Homo sapiens: one gene and its partners. The protein of the gene in region 1 binds, or shares a complex with, the protein of each later gene. Each region holds a gene or a part of one and is shown in the gene's direction. Other genes may lie near its edges.

The links. The genes of interacting proteins can lie anywhere in the genome.
Region 2: AHI1 (region 1) and MKS1 share a complex: the UniProt entries of both Homo sapiens proteins name them as parts of the tectonic-like complex.
Region 3: AHI1 (region 1) and CC2D2A share a complex: the UniProt entries of both Homo sapiens proteins name them as parts of the tectonic-like complex.

What each region holds. Positions count from the first base shown.
Region 1 is NC_000006.12:135,487,711-135,494,746, reverse strand, and holds part of AHI1 (jouberin), read left to right. Parts: intron 1-2,455; 5' UTR 2,456-2,509; coding exon 2,510-2,519; intron 2,520-3,999; coding exon 4,000-4,124; intron 4,125-7,036. UniProt on the Homo sapiens protein: Involved in vesicle trafficking and required for ciliogenesis, formation of primary non-motile cilium, and recruitment of RAB8A to the basal body of primary cilium.
Region 2 is NC_000017.11:58,204,907-58,209,257, reverse strand, and holds the end of MKS1 (tectonic-like complex member MKS1), read left to right. Parts: intron 1-674; coding exon 675-745; exon of another isoform or gene 746-750; intron 751-1,083; coding exon 1,084-1,153; intron 1,154-1,256; coding exon 1,257-1,364; intron 1,365-1,528; coding exon of another isoform or gene 1,529-1,554; exon of another isoform or gene 1,555-1,697; intron 1,698-2,039; coding exon 2,040-2,173; intron 2,174-2,710; coding exon 2,711-2,793; intron 2,794-2,877; coding exon 2,878-2,975; intron 2,976-3,087; coding exon 3,088-3,179; coding exon of another isoform or gene 3,180-3,268; 3' UTR 3,269-3,817; downstream 3,818-4,351. UniProt on the Homo sapiens protein: Component of the tectonic-like complex, a complex localized at the transition zone of primary cilia and acting as a barrier that prevents diffusion of transmembrane proteins between the cilia and plasma membranes.
Region 3 is NC_000004.12:15,535,880-15,542,915, forward strand, and holds part of CC2D2A (coiled-coil and C2 domain-containing protein 2A), read left to right. Parts: intron 1-1,040; coding exon 1,041-1,197; intron 1,198-2,019; coding exon 2,020-2,258; intron 2,259-4,957; coding exon 4,958-5,135; intron 5,136-7,036. UniProt on the Homo sapiens protein: Component of the tectonic-like complex, a complex localized at the transition zone of primary cilia and acting as a barrier that prevents diffusion of transmembrane proteins between the cilia and plasma membranes.

The sequences.
Region 1 (7,036 bases):
TGGAACTATCATATTTATAAATAACTCCCAAATCTTCAGCCTATTGTCTCCCTGCTGGATTAGTAGATTGCCTAACAAACATAATATGATTATATACGTAAACACACACACACGTGACAGTAATAACAGTTGTTGTTTTTGAAGGGCTTGCCATGTGCTAGGCATTGTGCCTAGTATTTTATTTGCATATTCTCATTTAATCTTTATAAAAACACTGTGAGTGATTTACTCTTATTATTGTGAAAGATTAGGAAGTTGATATCCATAGAGGTGAATCTGCTGGCAGATAGAACTGGTATTTGGATCCAAGGATCTGAAAATGGAGCTGATGCTTGTAGCTGCTCAGTGCCCTTCAGATACCCAACTCAACATGACCCATACTAAGCTCAGTGACTGCACCCTAACAACCTGTTACAGTTATAGCTAACATTTATTGTTGCTTCTTCTGTCTACGGTACTGTTCTAAATCATTTAACCCTTACAACAACCCTTTGAGTCGGCACTGGTAGGGTGTTTTTATAGATGAGGAAACAAAAGTCACGCAAGTGACTATGGAAACTAATTCTAGGACATGGATTTTAAACTACTGCCCTGTACTGCATTATATTACAGTGTAATGATACTACTAATCTACTTATTCTAGTTCTAGAAACATGGGAATTATCTCCGATTCTTTCTCCTGCCTCTTCATTAGTTATTTAATCTTTCTAAAATATTACCTCACTCCATCACCTGGAGCGCACTGGTGCAGTCTTGGCTCCCTGCAACCTCCACATTTCAGGTTCAAGCGATTTTCCTGCCTCAGCCTCCCCAGTAGCTGGGATTACAGGCACCCACCACCACGCCTGACTAAGTTTTGTATTTTTGGTAGAGATGGGGTTTTACCATGTTGGCCAGACAGGACACAAACTCCTGACCTCAAGTGATCCACCCGCCTTATCCTTCCCAAGTATTGGGATTACAGACATGAGCCACGGCGCCCAGCAGGCTTTTTTTTGATGAATCATAGTCATAATATAGGTCAGCTTTTTCCTGGCCTATTAGATGACCATCGAGTAGTATAAATATTAAATTTTTATTTGTTTTATGATTTTTCTACTTCCGTGCTCTCAGGTTTCAATTACTCATGCTGTCATTGCACTTGCCTTTGCAGCTTCTCTTTTCTAATTTAATATAGACTAGAAAGTAGAAGACTAGATTTATTAAATTTATAACTGCTAGAAGGAGTAAATACAGGCTCCTATCACTAAAGTATAGGAATTTTTACTCCATGGATTTAGTGATGTCTGTTTTGACTGGGTGCCACGTAGTTGTTGCCTAAGTTAACTGACATAGTTAGGTATGTTTACATAATCATTCCTTTCTTTTTAGAATTTCTTAGACATTTCTGCAAGAGGAACATGAATGTGGATGTCCAGGGAATTGGAGCATTAACCAATAATGCCTTGGGCCCAGTGTGGTGGCTCACGCCTGTAATCCCAACACTTTGGGAGGCTGAGTCGGGCAGATCATATGAGGTCAGGAGTTCAAGACCAGCCTGGCCAACATGATGAAACCCTGTCTCTACTAAAAATACAAAAATTAGCTGGGTGTGGTGGCGCACACCTGTAATCCCAGCCACTCGGGAGGCTGAGGCAGGAGAATCGCTTGAACCTGGGAGGCGGAGGTTGCAGTGAGCCGAGATCACACCACTGCACTCGACAAAGGGAGACTCCATCTCAAAAACAAACAAATCAATAATTCCTGAACCAGCTTTTTTTTTAACACTCTTCAGTTTTAGTCTCAAAAACATGCATATTACATTCTAAATGTTCTAATGTGAGAATATGTTCATTTTAGACATACACCGATTTTTTTAATAAAATGGGCAATTTAGTAATATACATACTGAGTTGAACCATGGTTTTGAGTAGTTCTGACACAGTAATACACATCCAGGTTTTATTAAAGAAAGATGGTGCAAATATTTGTACTATCCTTCTCTATTGTAGCAGAATTTTCAGTGGCAGACACAGAGGTATTTAAATTCACTGTGAGTGTGCTACCCACAAGCATGCTTTAATGTAATATTGAATGCTCTTAGGAAAGTCAATCCTGAGATGGAGTTTGGTTTCTTAAAAGTGCGTTGAAATGTTCATTAATGTATTAAAACACTTTAAAAAGTTTATTAACATACCACATTAGATGTGCACTGCCTTCAAAATGTTTTTTTTGTTTCAAATATATAAATACTTTATTCAGATATGATCTAGTTTGTTTCCCTTGATTTTAGAGCCCTAAACTGATTCAAATGTACCCAAGTCATTTGCATAAGATTGGGTTAAGGGAACATAGCTTTATTGGTATAAACTTAATGAAGTAGTGGACATACAATGGCATGATCTTGTGTGAAGAACGTTTTATAATTTTTATTTGGAAGTTCCATATTACAAATACATCTCCTTTGTTTCGATAGGATCCTGATTGAGTCAATGCTTTGCATTCTCAGTCCTCTGCATAAAGCTGAGAGATGCCTACAGGTAAGACTTCTATGAAATTTATGTATAAAATTTATATTTTATACATTTACTTTTAAGTTTGGTTTATTTTAAGGGATTCTTGAACAGATTAATGAATACAGTAGATGTCATTGACCAAATATACTACATTTAGAGATACTTATTGGTTTTGTATTCAGTTTTCTATTTAATATTGTGATTAAGGTTAGTATGTATTTAATGGATGGTAGTTTGGGACTCAGATGGACAAGGTAAATAATGATTACAACATAGGGTTAGTTTTTATTCTTTATCATCAAAATTGAATGTTTTACTCCACCACAAGCATTGGCAATCTTTTCTAAAAGGGCTAGCTAGTAAATATTTTAGGCTTAGTCTCTGCTATAACTGCTCAACTCTGTCTCTCTGTCTCTTTTAAAGCATGAAAGCAGTTATAACAATTCTTAATCAAATGGGTATGTCTGATTTCAATAAATCTTTACAAAAACAAGTGACTAGCCTGCAGGCCATAGTTTGCCGACACTTGCTCTAGAGCACCCATTCATTCAGCATTTATTAATTTAAAACATAATGACTATGTACACTATGTCAGACCTCATAATAGTAGCTGGGGATGTAGTTATGGGGGAAACAGAAAATATGTTTCTTTATATAGATATAAAAATAATTATATAATTTCCATTTGGGTTGAGTGCTGTGAAGGAAGAGAACAACCTGCTATGTGAGAAAAGGGAAAATTAGATGAGTTTGTCAGGAGGTGTTTTATTTACAGGCAGCATTTAAACAGACAGGTTAACACCAGCCAGGTGAGGAATTAGAGGAAGCTTGCCTCAGAAACAGCTTCATGTGGGAAGGAGCTTGCTGTGACGGAGGAGCTAAAGGAAGGGTATTATAGCTAGAACATAGGCATCTAAGGGGATATTTGTCTTGATTTGAAGCCCTGGAGATAGATCAGGAGGTATGGAGCCCTGTAGGGCATATAAAAGACTTATTTTATCCTAAATGTATTGGGAAATTTTCAGGGGCTTAAGCATTATCTTCTTCATGTTTTAAAGGAAAAACCTGTTAATATTTGTGGAATACTGATTACAGGCTAGGCACACCTTAGCCATTTTTCATGCAAAATGATCTTTGGCATAAGATAATTGTGATTTTACAGATAAGGAAAATGAAGTTTAGAGATCTTGAGTAACTTGTCTAAAGCCACATAACACGTAACTAACAGTGGTAGATGCTACTGTTTATCAGAAATAAAAAGTTAACTTAGCAAAGGAGACTTTTAGAGTGAGTGGCCAAAAAGGTCAGAGGGATACAGGTGAATGTTGTGTCACTAAAGTCAAAATAAAAAATATTTTAAGAAGGAAAGATAGGTGAGTTTTTCTAATGTAGCTAGAGAACTCATGCCGATATTTACAAGAACTTATTTCTTAACATCCTAGTAGTGTAGGTTGTGTGTTATGATAGAGTCATTTACAAAATCACATGGCTGTATCTTTTGTAGCTGAGAGTGAAGCAAAAGTAAAAACCAAAGTTCGCTTTGAAGAATTGCTTAAGACCCACAGTGATCTAATGCGTGAAAAGAAAAAACTGAAGAAAAAACTTGTCAGGTCTGAAGAAAACATCTCAGTAAGTAAATGATCATTGGGTAATAGTGATTTACATATGCGCATAAAATGCAGATATGGCTGCATTTTATGTTAAAATTCTAAGGAATTTTGAAAATTAAAAACAGTAACACTATGTCATGGTCAATAACATGTGGTAAAAATAAAGTTTATATTAGAATCAACATCACTGTGAGAATATTGACTTCATTCTTGAGTGCTGTCCTACAGGAAGAACACACACACAGTGGGGAAAATGACCAGAGATAGTGGGGAAACTCAAAACTAGCCATGATAACATTTTTGAAGAAAATATTTTTAACCCAGAATTGTGAAGAACTTAGGAAGTAGTATCTTAACTTCAGATATTGAATAGCTTGTGCTTATTTAAACTATTTCTGTGTGATTCTACCCAACAGAACCAGGAGAAATCAATGGCCGTATGGTAATAATTATCCTTTTATGTTTGAGGCACACTTTCAAATGATAGAATCTTTGGCAGCACACTTGAAGGAATTAAAAATACAGTGCTCAAAGACTAAGCAAATCAGCAACTAACTACAACCTGATCCCCTTGGAATCATAAAGAGTCTGTATTGGCATCCACAGTTAATGCTCTATGCCCTCTTTATACCTATCTCCCTACTTGAGTTGCACTTTTTACTACTTTGACCATTATCTCTTCTGTCCTCACAGAAAAAAATAAACAGGCTCTTGTGTAAATGGTACATAGTTTTTTTTTTTTTTTTGGCAGGAGTTTTATAATGAGTTATAATCCTACATTTTGCTTGTAGTAAGATTTACCCCATTTTTTCTTAAGACCTGTTCATTTTAGTATTCTGTCTGGCAGATGTCAATGTAACAATATAAATTCTGAAGTGAGGCAAAAACAAGTAGTAAAATTGACCAAAATCCAGCTGCACATATGTGAGGGTTCATAGTGTATACACTGGTGTACGACTGCACAAAAATTTCGAACTACTGACAGAATGGACAGATTAGCACTCCCATAGTGATTGCTGCTCTGAAATAGCATGTGCTTTTTCTGGTGGTACTAGTGCACAATATGGTAGGGAATAGTGACATGGAGGATGAAACATTGCTTATTGATATATGCGCTCCCCTCAGATGGAGTGGTTTATGTTGGGCAAAAGCAAAAAGAACCCTGGAAACAGTTGTCTGCAGAGATGTTTTATGCTCAGAGAAGAACCTCATATTGTCTCTTAGTATTAAAGAACTGGGAGTTGTGAGCCATGAACAAAATGCAATTTAGACCAAGGTTTAAATTAAATGGATAATCAGAATAGGCAGAGGCTATGTCCATTTACCTAAGGTCCAGTTTAAATGTTGAGGGGCACATAAGTGTGAGGTGACTAAGCATAATTTATCCAGCCTCTCTTTGCAAACACCAGGACTGAATAGGCTTCTTTTCTTTCAGAAATAAGTACACTAGGAACAAATATTTGGGAAGATATTTCGCAGCTCAAAAGAACAGGAATATTTCTAAAGGACTTAGAGGAGAACAAAATATTTTTGACATGATTAACTTGAGGAAGTAAAAGAGGAATAGCTGCTTTCATTTGCTAGATGCCTTAATGCTTTCTATCTTTAGGCACTCTTCTAAACACTTTATATATATTTAGTCGTTTAATACAAACGACGAAATTACAGGGTTTTATTTCTGTACAGGAGAAAACTACATCAGAAGTTAAGTAACTTGCTGAAAGTTACATAGTAAATGGTAGAACCAGGATTCAAACACTGAGTGGAAGTGCAGAATCCACTGCCTTAACCACAACCCAATATTATCTATTTTAATGAAATTTGAAAAGATAGGACTTCTTCTTGAAAGAAGAACAGGGAGTCCTATGTACAGAACAGGCTGAGATGAGAAATGGAGCAGTCTGAAATAAAATTAAGCGAGGAAAAAAGTCAAAATAGGGATTCATAATAATGGCAGGTTCATCTTATATTCCAGTTATATATAAGGCACAATAATAAGAGTTTTACAAATATTATTTCTAAATCTCATGTTAATCATGCAAGATAGATATTGGGATTCTTTTTTTGCACATGAGAAATTTTATAAACAGACAAACAGACATGTTAGGTGATTTCCTTAGGTCATTTAGTCTAAAATAGGATAAGTGGGATTTAAGACCACAGTCTCTGCAATTTTAAAGTTCATGTTCTTCAGTTGCTTCCTTAAAACTATATCTCAGGCCTAAAATGATGGAATTGACACTACGGAAAAATCTAATCAGTGAAGTGGGAGACAAATTCGAGGTGGGAAGAAATGACCAAAACTAAAATGAAAGAAATAAATGATGAGGACATAGAAAGATATTTGACCCACAAATAAGTATCCCGGGACAGTACTAGTGGAGCAGAAACAATAATGAGCATGATGAAGAAACCTTGCTGAGATTTCTGAAGAGATGAGTCATCCTGCATTCCAGGCAAAATTTATGAGATGAGAACTATATCTAGAAAATTCTTTTGTTTGTATCTTAAGAGTCAAATATTGCAGACACCTAAACACAAAAACATATAGTACATTTGAGACTTCTCTGTAAAAACACTAAATCCAAAAGACAATGGAGAAATATTTAGAGCACTAAGAGAAAAATTGTAGCCTGAGGAATCTGGTCACCTAAGTTGTCAGTCATTTGTGATGGTAGTTGTAAACATATGTGCATTATTAGAGAAATATCAGTGTTCCCTCCCTGGAAAAAAAAAAAGATTTAAGATTTATTAAAGATGTAGTACCATTTCTAGATATGAATCAAAGTTAAGAATTTAAGAATAGAACATCTTAAGATCTTAGAGGAAGGGATGAAGAGAAGTTGGTTAAGGAGTACAAAAATATAGTTAGAAGGAATAAGTTCTAGTAGTCAGTATTACAGTAGGGAAATTACAGTTAATAATTTATTG
Region 2 (4,351 bases), on another chromosome or scaffold:
ACTGTCCGCCCCGTCTGGGAAGTGAGGAGCGCCTCTGCCCGGCCGCCCCATCTGGGAGGTGTACCCAACAGCTCCGAAGAGACAGCGACCATTGAGAATGGGCCATGATGACGATGGCGGTTTTGTCAAAAAGAAAAGGGGGAAATGTGGGGAAAAGAAAGAGAGATCAGATTGTTACTGTGTCTGTGTAGAAAGAAGTAGACATAGGAGACTCCATTTTGTTCTGTACTAAGAAAAATTCTTCTGCCTTGGGATGCTGTTAATCTATAACCTTACCCCCAACCCCGTGCTCTCTGAAACATGTGCTGTGTCAACTCAAGGTTAAATGGATTAAGGGCGGTGCAAGATGTGCTTTGTTAAACAGGTGCTTGAAGGCAGCATGCTCCTTAAGAGTCATCACCACTCCCTAATCTCAAGTACCCAGGGACACAAACACTGTGGAAGGCCGCAGGGACCTCTGCCTAGGAGAACCAGAGACCTTTGTTCACGTGTTTATCTGCTGACCTTCTCTCCACTATTATCCTATGACCCTGCCACATCCCCCTCTCCGAGAAACACCCAAGAATGATCAATAAATACAAAAAAAAAAAAGAAAAGAAAAAAGAAACTGTCTTTTTCTGAATGACTTGCTTTCCTCCCAGGCGAGCTTACTATATTTGGTCTTTGGCTTTCAGACTGGTCAAGCCCAGCATTCCAGCAGCTCTCAGGAGTAACACAGACCTGCACCACCAAGTCCCTGGCAATGGTATGGAGAATGAGAGCGGGTATCTGGAAGGGAATGAGATCTGCTCCTGGGATGGCATTTGAGGTTTTATCAGGCCAAGTGCTGTGCGCCCTGGGGAGGATTCCAGAGTTGGGTGACTTGTGTGTGGGTTCTACAGGGCCACCTGGTCCGGAGATCCTGTCTGTCTTTTTGAGCATGGCAGCAGCTTGTATTTGGGTGTCCTTTTGCATCTCAGACTCCTATTTCCCACCTGGGTGATAATTTTTCTTTTTCCCTTGTGAAGATAACCTTGTCATTGGCCACAAGGAGAACAGATTCCAAGGGAGGCCTTGCCCACCCTATGACACTCCTTTTTATAGGACAAGGTGGCTCACTTCTCCTACCCATTCACGTTTGAAGCCTTCTTCCTCCATGAGGATGAATCTTCTGGTGAGTAGCTCAGCAGTTGATCCTGGGCCTTGGTTCCCCTCAAGCAGTGCTGTCTCTTGGTGAAGGCCGCCTGTGACCTGGCCGCTTCTCTCCTTGCTCCCAGATGCACTCCCGGAGTGGCCTGTGCTCTACTGTGAGGTCCTCTCGCTGGACTTCTGGCAGAGGTACCGTGTGGAAGGCTATGGGGCTGTGGTGCTGCCTGCCACTCCAGGTAACCGCTCGTCTCTGCCCTTCTGTGGCCCACATGCCCTAGGCCCTAAGAACAAGACTAACACTCGAATGCTTCTGGTGAGGGGTGGAGATAATTGGGAATTGGAAATGTTTGGCTTGAAAGAGTTCCTGTTCCTCTGAGGACTTTCTGCCCCCCTCCATTAGCGACAATGACGTGGCCTTGGCACTGACTTCCTGACAGTCTCTCCATGTGCTTCATGCTCCTCTGATTGGACTCAGGGTGAGAAGCTGTATGGCAAAATTGGCTCATAGCATATGTGTATTGAATGAATCAGCATTCAGTTTGGAATAAAAGCATCTGTCTTTTACTGTGTGCCAGGCATTGTGCCATACTTCTCACTTAATTCTCCCAGTCACTCTGTGAGGTGCAGGTGGTATTATTTCCATTTTACTAGATGAGGAGAATGAGCTTCAGAGAGGTTAAGAAACCTGTCCTGGGTATGCAGGTAATAACTGGCAGAGCGGAAATTTGAATTTCTCCCTGATTGATTTCCATACAGGTGCTATGGGTAACCATGATAACCTGCACCAGAGGCCAGGTCATCACCAGACCAGGTGTTTTAGCTGAGTCTAGGCCTGTGTCATTGCTGGGGAGTCAGTGAGGGGCCACATGCCCTTTCTGGACCTGGCCCCAGTCTTCTCTTCCCTTGCGCAGGCTCACACACCCTGACAGTCTCCACGTGGAGACCTGTGGAGCTTGGCACGGTGGCTGAGCTGAGGAGGTTTTTCATTGGCGGTTCTCTGGAACTGGAGGACCTCTCCTATGTACGGATACCAGGATCCTTCAAGGTGACTTTTGTCTTTGGAGTGACTTCACGCTGAGAACTTATGGTCCTGTCCTTCTGTAGGAGGTGGGATCTGGGTCAAGACCCCTTAGTTGTGCATTGCTTCAGTATTAACCCCTTCCTTCCTGTGGCTTAAGCTGGAAGTCATGACCACATTTTGAATCAGGTTCCAATATCTACACTGCTATCGTAGGAGGTCTCTGGAAAATAGTATAATTAGAGATTTCCCCTGGTTCCCATCAGAATAACTGGCTCTTTCCCCCATCACTGAAGGCCTCAGTAATCAGATGTGGGGAGGATTCACAGTAAGCATATAAGACCGCCGCTTCTCAAATGAGGTTGGAATGTTCCCTGGTTTAGTTGGGGGAGCCCAATAGCCCAGTATTAGCCTTGAGGTAATAGAGTCTGGGTGATGGAATAAGGTTTCCCCAACAGAACTGCGCTTCCCAAGAATGGGAATAAGAATGGGGGTGAGGCCAGCATGGTGCGGGGGTGTCTAGAGAGAGCAGAAACCTGAGGCTGTCCCAATGGCATGCCACAGGGGGAACGCCTGAGCCGCTTTGGACTCCGCACAGAGACCACAGGCACTGTCACCTTCCGCTTGCACTGTCTGCAGCAGTCCAGGTGAGTGACTTGGCCCTCTGCCTCAGGGCACCTTAGCCCTGAGGGGTGGAGACAGCCGTAACCATGTGGCTGGCCTCCCTGCAGGGCCTTCATGGAATCGAGCTCCCTTCAGAAAAGGATGCGGAGTGTGTTGGACCGTCTGGAAGGGTTCAGCCAGCAGAGTTCCATTCACAATGTGCTAGGTATGTCCCCTCCCCCAGCTGGCCACCCCAGGTCAGCATGGGCCTGTTTCTCTCTGCAGTGCAGAGAGAAATACCATATGGCAGCCAAATAGCATATCTCCTTTCCTTACAGAGGCCTTCCGTCGAGCCCGGCGCCGCATGCAGGAGGCCCGGGAAAGCCTCCCGCAGGACCTAGTGAGCCCCTCTGGAACCCTGGTCTCCTAGCTCACAGCAGCCCTGGCCCACAGTGCAAGAGGACAAGATGGGGGATATCTGAGGCCAGTGCTCTCCTGCCTCTTCGTCTTTCTGATTAGAGACCACGTTGGTCTGCTGAGAACCAGAAAAGCTGGGAAATTCCCGGCTGGCCCCTCTGCCTAGCCTTCTGCAGGGTCTTCTCCCTACCCTGTGGAAATAAAGCCAGAGACCCTGTGGCCCCCCCTTTATATTTGCAGCCACTGTCAATGGGCATCACAGCAAGGCAGGCTTTTTGATCTGAAGCTGTTTGGGGTGACCCCATAGTGAGTCTGGCCTTGACTCACTTTTCTGGCTTGTCTCACAGTAGCAGGGGATCTGCTGTTCTCCACCCTTTAAAAATGGAGCCTTTCATCTTCCAAGACCAAAGAAGGAAGGAAGGTGGACGGTGAGAGGGTCTTAAATCCCCAGCCTGTGAGTCTCAGCCTCTTTCCAGGGAAGCCTCATTCTACTGCTTGGGGCTTGCTGAGGTTGAGATATGAGTTATTTCTGAGTAAGTGAAGGCTGAAGGCAGTGCTGAGTCCTTTCTGCTAGCTGGGTGGTATCTTTTACTGTGTTTTTTTGTTTGTTTGTTTTTTTGTTTTTTGTTACATAAACCCCTTTTATTTTGACTGATGTTCTGTTGGCTGTTTGTCTGCTCAGGTTGCTGGTATGGCTAGGGTGTTCTTAATGTCGGGGCCCCTACCATGTCTGCCCTTCCCCTTTTCTGCCTTTCCCTACTCCACAGTGTTTCTTTGGGCTCTCCTAATTCAGCCCCCAGGAGAGGCTTAGATGGTTGTGCCAGCTTGCGTGTTAACAGCACTTCTCTTAAACATCTGGAGCAAAGCATGGAACTGAGGCCACGTCTTCCCTAGCCCAACACAGAAACAGCAGCCCCTGCCCTTAGCAGTGCTTTATTGGTAGAAGCAGAGCATGCTGCCTGGCCTCAGGCTCAGAGGAGTATTGTGGGGTGTCTGGAGGCTAGGACCGAGTGGTCTCTTAGTCATGGTGAGGGAGGGGAGGGAGGGCTGGGAAACAGTAGAAAGTGCTGTAAACCCTCCAGCTGACTTTTCTTGCCTGGGGTGCAAGACCACATGGCTTGGCTCCCAAGCCTTTGCACGTGGCGCTGATTCATAGCCTAATACCTAAGAGGCTCCCAAGGCGGG
Region 3 (7,036 bases), on another chromosome or scaffold:
CTGGGTGGGATGGATGAAGTCACCACACATTTGCCGCCATCTACCAGGAGAGCCATGCTGTTCATCAACATGTTAAGGGCTCTGAAAAGATGACCAGCAAGGAACCTTTCACACTTATTTAATCCAGTGTTAATATGGCCACAATATCTTTTCCTGGTGGTACATCTCACAGAACTAATGTCCTACAGAACACACTGTGGGAAACGGTGGTTTGAACTGGGCTGATCTCCTGGTGGAGTATAAGCAAAATCATCAAAGAAAAACCCAAATCCTCCATCCAAAGTCAAAAAAGTGGTTTCACCATCATTCTCAGCAAACTATCACAAGGACAGAAAACCAAACACCGCATGTTCTCACTCACAGGTGGGAATTGAACAATGAGAACACGTGGACACAGGGCGGGGAACATCACACACCAGGGCCTGTCGGGGGTGGGAGGGTTGGGGGAGGGATAGCATTAGGAGAAATACCTAATGTAGATGATGGGTTGATGCATGCAGTAAACCAACATGGCACATGTATACCTATGTATCAAACCTGCATGTTGTGCACATGTACCCTAGAACTTAAAGTATAATTTTAAAAAATTAAAATTAAAATTTTTTAAAAAGTGGTTTCAGGGACTCAGTAGCAACAAAATGAAGCAGTTCCTCAGAGACTTGAAGAAGTCATAAAATAACTAATGAAATTTCCACCACTATCAGCTGAGAACTTACAGGCCCCATGTCAGCACACCACACAGATCATTTAACACAGAGAGGCATGGCTGCTCAGTGTTCAGTGGGTTGGGCTCATATTCAGCCCTTCCACTCACCAGCTGTGTGTTCTTGGGAACTTACTTAACTTCTATGTGCCTCTGTCATCTCATGTATACGATGTGGATAATAATAGCATCTGCCTCACAGGATTGTGAGTTTACATGTGCGACATTTTTAGAAGAGGAACTGGCACATAGCAAGTCCAATATAAGTATTTGCTGTTATTATTGCTCTCTTACTTAATTTCCAGAAATAACCAAGGGACTACAAATTATTTTAAAGGGAAAAAGCTGACCAGAAAGCAGATGAAGAAGCATATGAAGCAGAAATTCAAGCTGAAATAAGTGAACTGTTAGAAGAGCACACGGAGGAGTACGCACAGAAGATGGAAGAATACAGAACGTCGTTACAACAGTGGAAGGCCTGGAGGAAAGTGCAAGTGTGTAAACAAACACTCAGCCTGGAATAGGGCTGGCCAGGAAGTGTCTGGGAGGGCAGCCTCCAGTACAGGAGTGGGGAAACCAGACTGGCAGACTAGGGTATCCTGTGGCTCCCTCTGTCTCTTCCCCGTCCCCTGGCTAAGGGATAAAAGGATGAATGAATTGACTGGCTAATGCATTTGCTTAAAAAGCCACCCAGCTGACTGATACCAGAGCCAGCTGTGTCCACAGAGAATGCTATGGTAGCACTCTGTGCCTATTTAAGTAATAATGTAGTAATCACTAATGCATGTGTCCAGCACTGTGCTGAGTATCTTACATGCATTATTCCATTAAATGTAGGGATTGATGCTTCTGAGTTTCCTTCAGAAAATTATATAACTTTATGCACATGACCCTACAAAACTGAGTCCAAGGGCAACAAATAATAGATCAGGTGGGCCTGCAATGCTCACTGTGCTTACATGCCTTATTTTAATATTTCAAGATGTGTACTTCGCCTTGAAAACCAAAATTAATGATCACATGAATACCTACCATTTTTTAAGCTCTTTCCAGGGACTAGGCTGTATGACAAATGCTTTTTAGGCATTTCAACAGTCTCATTTCAACAGCCCTGGGAGAAATTTCCTGGGCTCCATTCTGTAGATGAAAAAACTGAGGCACAGAGAGGTCAGGTGGCTTAGTGACCTGCCTGATTACACACTTCTGGTTGAAATGGGGCTGGGGTTTGTATCCAGGTCCATCTGGCTATGAAGACTGTGCTCTTAAATGAAATTCCAAAATTCCTGTTTGATATCATGTTGCCTCTAACTCAACAGAGGGCCAAGAAGAAGAAAAGGAAACAAGCAGCAGAAGAACATCCCGGTGATGAGATTGCAGAGCCGTATCCCGAGGAGGACCTTGTGAAGCCCAGCCCTCCAGAGCCCACTGATCGGGCAGTGATAGAGCAGGAGGTGAGGGAGAGAGCAGCCCAGAGCAGGAGGAGGCCTTGGGAGCCCACGCTGGTCCCGGAGCTAAGCCTGGCAGGAAGCGTAACACCCAATGACCAGTGCCCCAGGTGAGTGGATGCTCCGACCGTAAATGAGGCTGACATCTGATACACATGTTCACGTGGGCACATGCACACACACATGCACGACATGGGGAGTGTACACTTACTGACCTACACGAGCATCAGGAGTATCATTAACTCTAAATGAATATTAGGTTGAACCACATGAAATTGCTGACATTTGCCCACTTTAGGTGATTTCATATGATTCACCTACCTCATGCATCTGCACTGGCCACTCAGGAGCACACTGGAAAGCTCCCTGTAGGAGAAGCATCCCAGTTGCAAATCTCTGCCTGCTCTTCACAGTGGCTGTCTGTGTGGCTTTTGATTTGAGTCCCTTATCTGTAACCTCAATGAGTCCTTCAGTCCACTGGTAGCATGTCCCACCTTTCTGGCACAGGCACGGATGCCTTTCCTTGCCCCTTCCTTGATTTCAGCTGCTCCAGGGATCAGCTTTTCTCCTTGAAGACCCCCCAGAAAGTTGTGGGTGGTATTTAAGTCAGGCCATCTGAAGCACACCCTCCAGATATGATAAAAATACATGTCTAGTCATTCTCACTTGATGCCTAAGAGAAACATCATTTGATTTATATACATTTGTACATATAATAATTCATAAACATACATTTGTAAGTTCATCTTTTTAAAAATTATAACATAATAAAAATATTTTTATGTTTCCTATTTATTCTTTCCTTCACTGAATAGCCATGGTTCTCAAAGTATAGCCCCAGAATCAGCAGCATCAGCATCACTGAGGACTTGTTAGAAACATAAACTCAGGCCAGGCATGGTGGCTCATGCCTGTAACCTCAGCACTTTGGGAGGCTGAGGCAGGAGGATCGCTTGAGGCCAGGAGTTGGAGACCAGCCTGGGGAACAAAATGAGACCTCACCTCTATTGAATAAATAAATAAATACCCCAAACATTTTTAATACCTCACATTGAAATAAATATGTTTAAGAAAGATTAATAAAAACTAGCCAGATAATTAAAGTCAACCAACTAAACAGAAATTTAAAAAATAATTTTAAAAAAGAAAGAAATGCAAGCTCACAAGTTCTACCTGAGACTTACTGAACCTGAAACCCTGAGGTGGGGCCTAGAAAACTGTTCTCACAAGGTCTCCAAGTGATTCTGATGCATGTTATGGTATATCATCATTAATTAAAGGGAGTCCATTAAAATCATCGATACCACAAAATCCCAGGCTTAGTTCTCCAGTAAATAGAAGATCTATCATGAATACAGGGACTGTTGTACACTGGAATCTTCAATATCCCAACGTGAAAAATGAGAATTCAAATAAAGTCAGTCAGCCTCCGAGTTCATTAAAACGTGGGAGTTAATTAGGATGTCATTATAAGACTTCTCACAGTCTTGGTTTCAAACTTCTGCTAATGTTCTAATGATTGATTTATTCTAATGATTGATTTATTTTAAAATTATAGCTTTTTGTGCATTTTCATGTGTTCCCTCAACTTCACATATTAAGATATTATACATAAACTATTCCCCTGCACTAAGTAAGCAATTTTCAAGGCACAAGTACCATACCCTATAATTTTAATTTTGACATGAATGTTCAAAATATGTGATGACACAGCATGCTTTCTAAAAGGAAAATTTGGGCTTGATTTGGTAATCTTTTATGAGTGGAGTCTAAGTCTTCAGTGTCTTGGATACTTCTTGCAAATTTGCTGTGAAGTGTCCTTTATTAAAAAAATGCTGAAGTAATTTGAGCTATTTCATCTAGAATAAGTCTAAATTATAGACATGTAAAAAGTTAAAACTACCACCCCCTTTAATTACTAGAGAATTTCTGTTTGGAATGATGAAGAAGCTCTGAAGGTGGATAGTGGTGATGGTTAGACAACATAGTAATTGTATGTAATGCCACTGAATCATACACTTAAAAATGGTTAAAGTGATAAACATTACGTTATGTTATATATATTTTCCACAATGGAACAATTTTTAATAAACTACCACCCCTCCCCCAAAAAAAACCTAAGCTTGTTTCAAATTTTGATGCCCTAACCTTTTCCTTTCCTCAATTAGCTTGAATTGCTATTGACTTAACCAATAACTGGCATTTTTTGGTGGATGTCTATACACATATGTACAATAAAATTAAAGACCAATGGGAGGTTGTTTTTTTTTTTAACTTTCTGATTCAAATTATCTTTAAAAATAAGGAATATTTATTAATACTCTGCATCCATTGAACATTCACTTACTGTCTGAAAATGTTGAGAAAAACTTGGTATCTTGGAAAAATGAACTCGATCTAACTGCTACAATATGCTGCTGTATTTTTAGAATAAAACTTCTTACTCAAATATAAATCATTATTATCCCCTTTGTCTTGAATTTATTCCATTTAACAAGGAATATGTGAATTTAAAACTTTGGGACACAAATGTAAAGCTTGCCTGAAAAACCTGAGGAGACTGTAGCACAACAATGAATGGACTCTAGTTCTTAAATCCTCTGTGCCCTTTTCAGTGTCTGTTAATGGCTTCTCCATAAATTCCATACTACTCTGCAAGACCTGTGGCTCCTCTGGTTAAATGAGGGCTGACATGATTGGGAGAGTTGCCTGCAGTGTGTCTTGTTCTGTTCAGTTCTTATTTATCATATATTTTGGTGATCTTAGTAAATTATTACTAACTCCACCTGTGAATGGTCTCCTTTTGCAGAGCGGAGGTCTCGAGAAGGGAGGATGTAAAGAAGCGCTCAGTGTACTTAAAAGTGCTGTTCAACAACAAGGAGGTGTCCAGGACAGTCAGTCGGCCACTAGGAGCAGACTTCCGAGTTCACTTTGGGCAGATTTTCAATTTGCAAATAGTCAACTGGCCGGAGAGTTTAACACTTCAGGTACACATTTTAATTATAGTTACTGGCCGGGCACTGTGGCTCATGCCTGTACTTTGGGAGGCCAAGGTGGGCAGATCACTTAAGGCCAGGAGTTCGAGACCAGCCTGGCCAACATGGCAAAACCACATCTCTACTGTAAATACAAAAAAAAAAAATTAGCCAAGTGTGCTGGCGGGTGCCTGTAATCCCAGCTACTCGGGAGGCTGAGGCAGGAGAATCTCTTGAACCCAGGAGGTGGAGGTTGCATTGAGCTGAGATCATGCCACTGTACTCCAGCCTAGGCGACAGAGTGTGACTCTGTCTCAAAACAATAGTAATAATAATTATTATTATTATTATAGTTACTGCCCCAATAATTTTTTGTTCATTACAGCTTTGAGATGATTTTAAATCATCCATTGGTTATAAATATGTCTCGATAGAGTCTCAAGCCTCTTCCTTGGCACATCTGTTCTTAAAGTCTTGGAAGAAAGAGATCTGTTCCCCAACTCACCTACTGAAAATGCTGGCAGAATAACTCTGGCCACAGTGCTCTGGAGTGTCTGCCTTGAGATGGGAGAGGGGTGCTGAAGGGGGTGGGGCACAGGGAGATCTCCAGCTCATTCATTGAAGACATATTTCAACATCACCCTCTACAAGGACTCTAGTGTAATATAACAGAGAAATCAATTATGCCGCAATCATGGGAGGTTATGATGTGGGAAAGATACAGGTGCTAGGATCCCCCAAAAATTAATAAATCTCCTCACTAGCCTAAATCCCACCATTAGCAATATATTTATTTGAGTCTATTTTAGTTTCCTGGGGAAACTAAACTATAACAAGGAACCACTAACTTGGTGGCTTCAAAACAACAGAAATGTGTTTACTCACAGTTCTGGAGGCCTAAAGTCTGAAATCAAGGCGTCAGTAGGGCCATACTCCCTCCAAAAGCTCTAGAGGAGTATCTTTCCCTGCCTCTTCCAGCTCCTCCTGGCACTTAGAGTTCCTTGGTTTGTGTTAGCGTAACTCTAATCTCTGCTTCCATCTTCACATAGCCTTCTCTGTGTCTCTCTCTGTGGGTCCTCTTTTGTCGCTTATAAGAACACTCTTATTGGATTTAGGGCCCACCCTAATCTAATATGATCTTATCTTCATCCTTAACTAATGATATCTGCAAAGACCCCATTTCCAAATTAGGTCGCATTCTGAGTTTCTGGGCGGACATCAATATGTGGAGGATGCTATTTAACCCATTACAGTGTCTTCAGTCTTGCTTGTTCTTTCGGTGACTCTTCTCCCACAATGCTAACAGGTCTCTCTTATGATCCTAACAGGCTTGTTAACTAGGATTGCAGCTTTGTGGCATGCATGCCCTTGTTTCCCCACCACCACCCAGGCAGAAATCACAGATCCTCATCCATCACTTAGGCAGAAATTTCTCACTCCCCTCCACCACCCTTGCCAGAAAGCAATAATTGATGGTGCTATTTTTGTTGTGTTTTCCCACTGAGCCTGAATATAATTTTAGAACTCTTCTCAATACAGTACTTCAGGTAGCCACTACCTATTCCTAGTGAGTATGACTGACAAAGTCTGCAGGTACCATCATGGCTGTATAATTAATAAAATATTTACATACTCTGTACTGACTGATAAATAGCTGCTGCCCTGACCTTCCCAGATGCCATCCTGGCCACATAAGCCCCACTTCAAGGACCCCCTGGACCTTACCACAATTGACCAATTAAAGGGGGTGGCTGACCAAGGCCAGCGCCTCCAGGGTCCTGTTCCCAAGCTGTGGTGGGCAGCTCTTCTAATGAACCCAGGAGGTGGGTTCAATACTGTGTATTGTTCAGCATTTTGAATATCAAGCCCCGCCTAGATCTCAGTAGTTAAAAACCTTCTACAACCTGTAGAGG